3 separate regions of the Homo sapiens genome follow, and all the other regions are linked to region 3. Evidence: fine-mapped expression QTL. A gene starts in region 3. Each other region holds a variant in brackets. All regions are shown on one strand. Distances are from middle to middle.

Region 1 (2,760 bases), 20 kb after region 3:
GCCAGGAAATAAGATGGAGAGGTTAGGAGGAAGATTGAGGTCTTCGGGGCCATCATGAGATTTTGAGGAGGGGTACATGATCTGATCTAGATATCTAAGCATCACTCAAGGCATTGTGTTGAAGTTAGAATATAGAGGGCAAGGGTAGAAGCAGGGAGATCAATTAGGAGGCTATGACACTAGTCCGGGAGAGATGAGGATGGCTTGGATCAGCGGGACAGTGGTGGAGGTGTGAGAGGTGATTATATCTCGAGCCAACAGGGATTGCTAGTGGATTAGCTGAGAGAGGTGAGAGAAAGACAGGAGCGAAAGATAACACCAAGGTTTCTGGAAGGATGGAGTTGCTGTTTCCTGAATGAGAAGACTATGGGTCAGGCAGGTTTGGCAGAGGTAAGTGGAGGAAGAGATTTAGACATAAGTTTGAACTTTAAGTTAGACATCTCCATGGAGATGTTGAGACTTCAGTTGGATACACGAGTCTGGGGTTCAGTGTAGGGGTTCTGGCTGGATAAATAAAGTTGGCCATCTTCAGTATGCCGATATTTAAAACCTTGAGATTGGAGGCACTCACCAAGGGAGCAAGTACAGATAAAGTGGGAGTCTGAGGCCTGAGCCCTGGGGCCCTCCAGGACTTAAGGGTGGGGAAATGAAGGCAGGATGCATCAAAGAGAAGGAACAACTGGCGAAGGAGGAGAAACCATGAGGACATGATTTCCCCAGAGCTGCATGAAGAGAGTGTTTCACAGAGAGGGAGTGATCAACTGTGTCAAAAGCTGTTGATGTTTTATGTAAAATGAGGACTGAAAATGAGCAACTGGATTTAGCCAAGTAGCCCCAGTTATTCTATCCCGTAGCAGTCTTTTCTTCATTGACAGTATCTGGATTTTTCCCTCCCTCCCTCCCTCTCTCTTTTCTTCCTTCCCTTCCCTTCCCTTCCCTTCCTTCTCTCTTTCTCTCTTTATCTCTCTTTTTGTTTCTCATTTGCCTCTTTCACTGGATAGTAACAGTAACCCCTATAAGAACGGGGACCATGACTGTTGGGGGTATAGTGGCTGGCACATATTAGGAGTATGTTATGCAATTTATCTCTTTTGGTTTCTGTTTTGACCACATATTGTCCATTTCCCTTTCTCACCTTCCTAATGTTCCAAATCACTTTGGGGAATTTCCTCTCTTCTGTTGTGTGTGGTCTTGATGGGATGGCAAATTCTGTGTTTGCCTCCTACTGTGGAAGCCAAAGCAAGCAGATGCTGCCCCAGACCCCTACACCAGGGGGCAGGCTGCGTCCATCAGAGGCTCCTGAGTTATCCATGGACAAGAGAATGAGTTGAATCCCAGCATCTCTGTCCTCACCAGAGAGCCCTCCTGGTGAGAGCTGTTGCCATGGTTTCCATTTCCCAGGCCTTGGTGCTCCCCTGCTTCCTGCCATCACCAAGCCTGCTGCTCCAGCCCCTGTTTCTCTGAGCTCCCAGTATCCTTCCAGTAAATCCTCTTTCGCTTATGTTAACCAGAGCCAGTTACTATTCCTTTCAACTTAAAAAGTTCCCAACACCTAAGCACTCAATACACAATACTCAATACACATTTGCTGAATGAATGAAAAAGTATGGTTTTCATTTCATGAATGGCGAGTCTGAAGTTCAGAGAGGCTTACCACATGTCTAAGACCACATACCTTCCATCA[A/G]TTCTTCTATGCTCCCTTTTCACATTCTCAGATCTCTGAAATCAGGATGCTTTTTACAATTGGCAGTGTCTTACAATCAAGTGGAAGTATTTTTCTGTTTTTAGTGGTATATAAAATAATGTATCTTATATTAGCTTAGATTCAATGAAATATGGTAGTCAGTATTGAAGTCAAAATTGAAACATATTTCAAAAGTCTGTACATCTTCGCTTTTCAAGGAGTTTATTATCTAGTTGGAGAAAAAAATAAGTAGGAAAACTCCACAAATCTTTCTCAAATACAGAGTAGGGTTTCATGAACACTGAGTGGAGGCCCTCACTAAAGCTGCAGGGGTACATGACTCTGAAGGGCTGAGTGGAGGAGCCACAGCGTGGGCATTTATGTTGATCTCAGCAAGAAAGATTTGGATGGATGGAAATATGAGAAGAATGGAGAGGAGGGAGGACTAGGTTCTAGACGATGGCAACCCTGCCGACTCTTAAATGCAGGTCTGAGCCACAAGGCTGAGTTTGGTGGAGATGGTTGCTTGGTGTCTCCCCTCTGACTCTTTCCCTTCTCCTTCTCCATGGTAAATTATTCTTCCAATTCTCCCTGTGTTCACCATTATAACTGTTTTCTGCTGCAATCTTTTTCTGGAAAGTTCCCCCCTTCCTACCTCCTGCCCATTCCTCCCAATCAGTTCAGCTCTTGTGTGTGCTGGACAGAAATCCCTCTTGGCAGCCTAGGCAACATAGCAAGACCCCCAACTCTATATATTTTTTTAAATTAGCCAGCATGATAATGCACACCTATAGTCTTATCTACTCTGGAGGCTGAGGTGGGAGGATCACTTGAGCCCAGAAGTTAAAGGCTGCAGTGAGCTATGATGGCACCACTGCATTCTAGCCTGGGTGACGGAGCAAGACCCTGTCTCAAAACAAGCAAACAAATAAAAAAGAAATTACTCTGGGATCCAGAAATAAGGGAAAATGTATTTCAGGGGGAGGAACAGCAATAAGCATGGAGGTGCAATGCATGATGTATGTGAGGAAGAGTGCCTGAATACCATGAAAGGGTAGGCTGGGAAGAGGGGTTTA
Region 2 (2,760 bases), 41 kb before region 3:
CCGCCTTGGCCTCTCAAAGTGCTGGGATTACAGGTGTGAGGCACCATGCCCAGCCCATACTTTATTCCTATATGTATTTGTTTTCCTTCCCACAAGGATTATTTCTTTACTTGAAGCGCCCTAGATTTTTCATAAATGAAAAACACACTCTGGATGTACTTATTTATATCTAATTTTCTAAAACTGAAATGTTCATAGTGGCTCAGGGGAAGGGTAACACAAGAGTTAATTCTGAAATTCAGTTCTATTTATCTTATTTGTCAAAGCCAGCTTTTACTCCTGTGAACATGTATCTCCTAATTCCAGGAACAATTGTGGATATGATGATGTAAATACAGTTTTTCTTAATCTTTTAAAATTCACACTCATTTCTGATAACCTTATGTTCCCTAATCAGATTCTGATATACCCATCCTTAGGTGTCTTAGCAAACTGTGATATGTATTTTCAGTCTCCTTTGCTGAATTCTCTCCTCTTCCTCAAATCTGATGACTCTCAAATCTCTATCTCCAGTCTCAGCTTGCTCTTTGAACGTCAGACTTACTTGTCTGACTGATTTCTTAACATCTCCCCTAGGATGCTTAGTAAGGCATCACAAACAATTGTGCCTTGGCCACAATCATCTCCCACACTGCTCTCCCTTCTTGGGGCTCCCAGGGGACATCAATGGTACCAGTAGGACTCCATCATTCATGCCCTTGTTCAAGTCAAAATCTTCATTCATTTTTGGCTCCTTTCTCACCAACTGCATATCCCATCAATCAGCAAATCCTGTCAGCCCTACCTTCAAAATACCTCCAGAATCCAATCATGCGTTGGCATCTCCTCTGCTCCCATCTGGGCAAACTAGCAGCATCTCTCGCCTGGATGACTTAAAGAGTTCCCTCTGCTGATCTGGGCTTCACACTTGCTTCCCTCCTCAACCCCCCATCTAGTTTCCATCAGTCATTATTCCCTAGCTCAAAACTCTCCAACAGATTCTCAGCATACTTAACACACTTACTCACGTCCACTCCTTGGCCCATCAGCAGCTATGAGAACTGGCCTTGGCTCACTCTATCCAGCCACACTAACCCCTCTTCTCCTTAAATCTGCCAAGCAATGCTCTGTCTTGGGGCCTTGACACAGGTTCTTCCTTCTGCTTAAACTTCTCACAGACACTGCAGGCCTGCACATCTCACTGCCTCACTTCTTTCAGGTCTCTGGGTCAAGCGTTATCTCCTCAGAAAGGCCCTACTCTCTCTTCCCAGACTCTGCTTTGCTTTTCTTCTTGGTACGTACCCCTTCCCCCTTCCTGGCACTCTATTTTCTATCTATTGAATTATTCCCTCTCCTTCACTGGAATGTCAATG[C/T]CGTAAGAAAAGGATGTTGTTTGTTTACCGTTGCACTCCCAGTGCCTGAGGCAATGCCTGACACAGGCTAGGCATTCAAGAAAAAATACACATTTTTTGGTTACTGAATGAATGCATATTCTCAACTGGCCAGAAATATTTTATTGAACTTGATTTTTCTGATGTTCGTATTATAAAAATAAACATTTCCTCTTTCCCCAAGTGAATCATAAGATAAGGCATGATTTTTAAACTACGTATGCCTTACCCCCTAGATTCTGGTATCTGCCCATTGGGGTGTTTTGATATATAAAACCTCATGGCTACATTCTGAATTTTTACTAAGCATCTGGCATGTTCTGTAGTCTTTTGCCTCTAACTAAAGCCTCAAGGCTTTATTACCTTTAAAAAATGCTTGCAGAATTAAGCTAATAAAGACATTGTCTGCCTTATTTGTGGTAGTGGCAGTTTTTCTCCCCTCCAGTTGTATCTGAATAAGGCTGGCTCAGATTTCAATGCCAAGTAGTTTGCCACACAACTTTTGTTGTATGGTTCCATGCAGTTTGGGCCTAGCAGCCACAGAAAACACTGTGGAATATTAAGACAACTCCTTGGAAGAGACTAGAAGGGAGTTCAGGCCCCTTCTGCCAGGAGTCTCCAATATATTTGGGTTTTCTGGCTGCCTGGCCAGTATTGGTGCTTTTCAGAAGAGCAGTGTTTCCTTCATGAATGAAACCCATTTATCATGACACACTCAGTGGACAGAGTTAGCTCCCAGGGGACAGTCGTTCTCCCAGCCTCTGACATTTTCCCAGTGTGACAGTGAATACCACCCCACAGAGACCAATGTCACTCTGTGAATTCCACCTTGGACTCTTAGCAAACCTCAGCTTCAGAGAGTTCAGTCAACTGGAAATTGTCTCCTGTGTCTTTTCTCCTTTTCTTGAAGCATAATCTTTCTGGATCTTTTATATATAAGACTTTGGAATCATTGTGTAAAAATAGGATATTCTTAATCCTGACTCATTTGAGAAATAAGTCAGACTCAGCTTAGTTCAAAGATCTGGTCAAATTCTAACATTAGTGATAACATAAATAGAAAACACAGATGGGTATCAGTTCTGCCCTTTTACCTCTTTAATAAATAAAATGCAATAAATCATCTGCAAGTCTTGGTGAACTTTGATTTCCATGTATTTCTTTAAAGCTTAAAAATTTTGATCTTTGTGATGTGAAATCCTATTCAATTGTTTGGGAATTTAACTTGTTAGGTGGTTTGTCCAAAAGAAGAAAACGGTAGATATCAAATACTAAGTATTTGGTCATTCAAGTCAAGCACTTTGATTTTTTTTTTTTTTAAACTACAAATCTGGCCTCCTAGAATGTTGTGCTTGTGCAGTTTAACTCTGGACTTAATTCCACTGCAGTC
Region 3 (2,760 bases):
AAGGAAGCTAATCATGTGAAGTTTGTCCAACTCCACACGGTCTAATAAATTCCCGTTTGTTTCCGCTGGGAGCAGCCATTAAACGCGCCCTGACACGTGGGCGCAGGAACCTCCCTTCTACCTCTGGTGTTCAGAGATTTCCTTCTCGACCCACTTGTTTGTATACAACCACGCCCGGCAGGATGACCACCAGATGACCGGCCGCAGCAATGCCTCCACTCAGTCCCAGTTGGGCAAAGTTTCACTCCACTGCGGCGACGTGAACAAGAATCACGGCTTCCTTATCGTGAGTTATGAATGATTTAAGCCAAGTTTACAGGACACACAAAGCGAGGGACGAGTGAGTGACGGGAGGTGCTAAGTGACAGCGTTTTAAAGTTAGCTTTAATTGATATGCCCTAATTAAAATGAAAAACAGAATTCACCCTGCCCCACGGGATAACTGTCGGGGCAATAATTAAAAAAAAAAAAATCACCCAAGACTAAGCCTCAACCTCCCCCTTACCACTTGCAAATACAGTCTGCAGAAAAGCAGCCTCGGGTCCCCACTCGGGGGTCCCTCGCGGGGTGCGTCATATGGGCTCTCCCCTCTGCGACCCGCTATTTCCCTGCTAGACCCCCAGCGCCCAGCGGATTCCAAGGCTGCGCTCCCGCCGGCTGGTCCCGGGAGGTAGAAAGTAGGCAGAGGGGCGTGGCGTCCCTGTCGCCCCCACATGCCAGCCCTCCTCCAACGCCTGACACCACCACAAGCCACGGCTGGGAACACTGGGGGCCTCCCAACCCGGCGCGGGGCGCACGGCCGCAGGCTGGCGAGGAGGCAAGCGAGCTCAAGGGGAGACCTTTCCTTCCACCCCCAGCCCTAGCCCCAGCCACAGCCGTGGGGGCGGCTTCCCGCAACCTCGGGCGGCCGCCCGTCGAGGGCGCGCGCGCCGTTTCTGCCTCTGGGTCTCGGTGTCCCTTGGCCCCTTCCTCCCCCTCCCCCCGGTCTCCGGCGCCCAGCGCCCAGACCAGTCCCCGCCCTCCAGCAGGACACTCTTCCCTCCTTCCTTCCTTCCTCCGCTCCCTCCCTCCATCTCGCTTCCCAGCACCCGGGACTCGGAGGCGGCCCCCGAACTCGCTGGCCGACGCCCCGCGCCGCGCCCCGACCCCGCGGGGACCCGACTCACCACCCGCGCCCGCCGCTTGGTACTCACCCGCCTGCCGGTGCGCTGCCCCGCCGTCGCCGCCGGGACTCGGTCTCTAAGGGCTCCTGGAGACGGCTCCGACCTCTCCTCCTCCTCCTCCTCTTGCTCCTCCGGGCGCCGGCTCCGCCTCGCTGGGGTGGGCGGGGCGGCGGCGGCCCCGGGCTCCTTCCTCCGCGCCGGGCCCTGCCTCCCGCCCGGACGCCCTGGCTGTGCTGTCCCGGGCCGGGGAGCCCGCGTTGTGGCCCCGCAGGAGGAGGGGCGAGGCCTGGCCTGTGGAAGCTCGGTGGACGTCTGGTCGTCTTTGGCCATCCCCCTTCCTCTAATTCTCATGGAGGACCTGAAGTTCTAGGACTTGAGGGCCCCCACTCTACGACCCGCCCCCGCGCGGGGCCGCCCTGACTCCTCGCAAGTTTCCTTCGCGTGCGAACGCCTCGCTTGCCCCTGTGCCAGCGGTCCCCAGGGCTGTGAGGATGAGCGCTGCCAAACCCCTACACGAAAGTTTGGTTCTGTTCCAGAAACTATGGAGGAAAACACGCATAGTAACATTTAAAGGGCCCTGGGGCCACGGAGAGAAGTTTCCCAGAAAGTGGAGGTATAACTGCGGATTATAGAATTTGTAGTACATCCACCCACCATGAGCTTCCCGTCCATCTGCCCCGACCCCCTGAAATTTGTTTCCGAATGTCCAGTACCTGGCAGAGTTCTGCCTAATGAATTAATGGGATTTGGTTGGTCTTTTCTGGAAGGGTTCAAGGTCGGGTAAATGGAGGAGCCATTTCCGCTTCCACAGATTTTGTACTATTCCTTTGGCCATTCGACAGACATTACCAAGCACCCGCTGTGTACCAACTGCGATGCTAAAGGTGATGGGAGAGGTACAAAGATGAATCAGACAAGGGGCTTGCCTTCTTGGAGTCCAGAAAGAGTAAAGAAGCTGGATGTTCAGAAAACCACTCAGCGGACTTCTAGAGTATTCCTAGGTAGCCGCTTTCTTGTTTGACAGGGTGGAGAGAAAAGAGGTGAGGCCAAAGTAGGTCACTTAGAACCAGTGTGGGCAGAGTCCACACTTGAAATGGAGTCTGAAAGCATTGGTGAGGGATGTCTGTGTATTGAGTTTCACCAACTGAGGACAAGTGGGCCCTGGGGAATCTGGGAACTAGGGACTGCAGTCAGGGCATTATATTCCCTCTTGCTTTCCTTCTGACCCCTAAGCAAGTTTCAGGTTTAGTGAAATCATTTGCACATGTAGAAGAGGTGTCACAGGTAGAGTAGGTGTATGAATGCATGCCTTGCCCCAGGAGTGTGGTCTTAGCAAGCTGCGGATGGCGGTGGTTTGTGGGATGCAAGCCACAGACTGCCAGAGGGGTCTTTATTTCCTGTTCTGTTCAGCATTAGGAAATGCTTGACTGATTCACAAGTACTAACAGTTCAAATGATACACCTGAAACAGAACAGCTTGACACCACAGGGACTGAGAGGGTGGCATACTGGAGTTTGTATTTTTTGGCCACAGACCACAGAATAGACTCCTCTAAGCTATGCTACTAATTTTCCTTCCTGGGACACTTTATAGTTT

Which allele goes with the higher level. Alleles are on the strand shown, and positions count from the first base shown. SD is a standard deviation of normalised expression in the study named. Not every link is listed here.
For the expression in fibroblasts of the gene that starts at base 1,317 in region 3, allele C in region 2 goes with a lower level than allele T (small effect, 0.32 SD a copy in GTEx).

The links. PIP is the estimated chance that this variant, and not a neighbour inherited with it, causes the effect. A credible set is the group of variants that fine-mapping cannot tell apart.
Region 1: its variant is the best candidate, but not a certain one, in a credible set for the expression of GNG12 in lung (TOPMed, PIP 0.56).
Region 2: its variant is the best candidate, but not a certain one, in a credible set for the expression of GNG12 in fibroblasts (GTEx, PIP 0.87).

Annotation. Positions count from the first base shown.
Region 1 is chr1:67,852,545-67,855,304 of GRCh38, forward strand. The region is part of intron 1 of GNG12-AS1 (GNG12, DIRAS3 and WLS antisense RNA 1); the gene reads left to right. Among named protein-coding and RNA genes, the nearest start is that of GNG12, 20 kb to the left of the region's middle. The variant A/G (reference allele first, on the strand shown) is at 1,685.
Region 2 is chr1:67,790,859-67,793,618 of GRCh38, forward strand. All of the region lies in intron 1 of GNG12 (G protein subunit gamma 12), which reads right to left. Among named protein-coding and RNA genes, the nearest start is that of GNG12-AS1, 40 kb to the right of the region's middle. The variant C/T (reference allele first, on the strand shown) is at 1,353.
Region 3 is chr1:67,832,151-67,834,910 of GRCh38, forward strand. GNG12 (G protein subunit gamma 12) reads right to left here and starts at 1,317. Exons shown (of 4, transcript NM_018841.6): 1 at 1,194-1,317. GNG12-AS1 (GNG12, DIRAS3 and WLS antisense RNA 1) reads left to right here and starts at 138. Exons shown (of 10, transcript NR_040077.1): 1 at 138-286.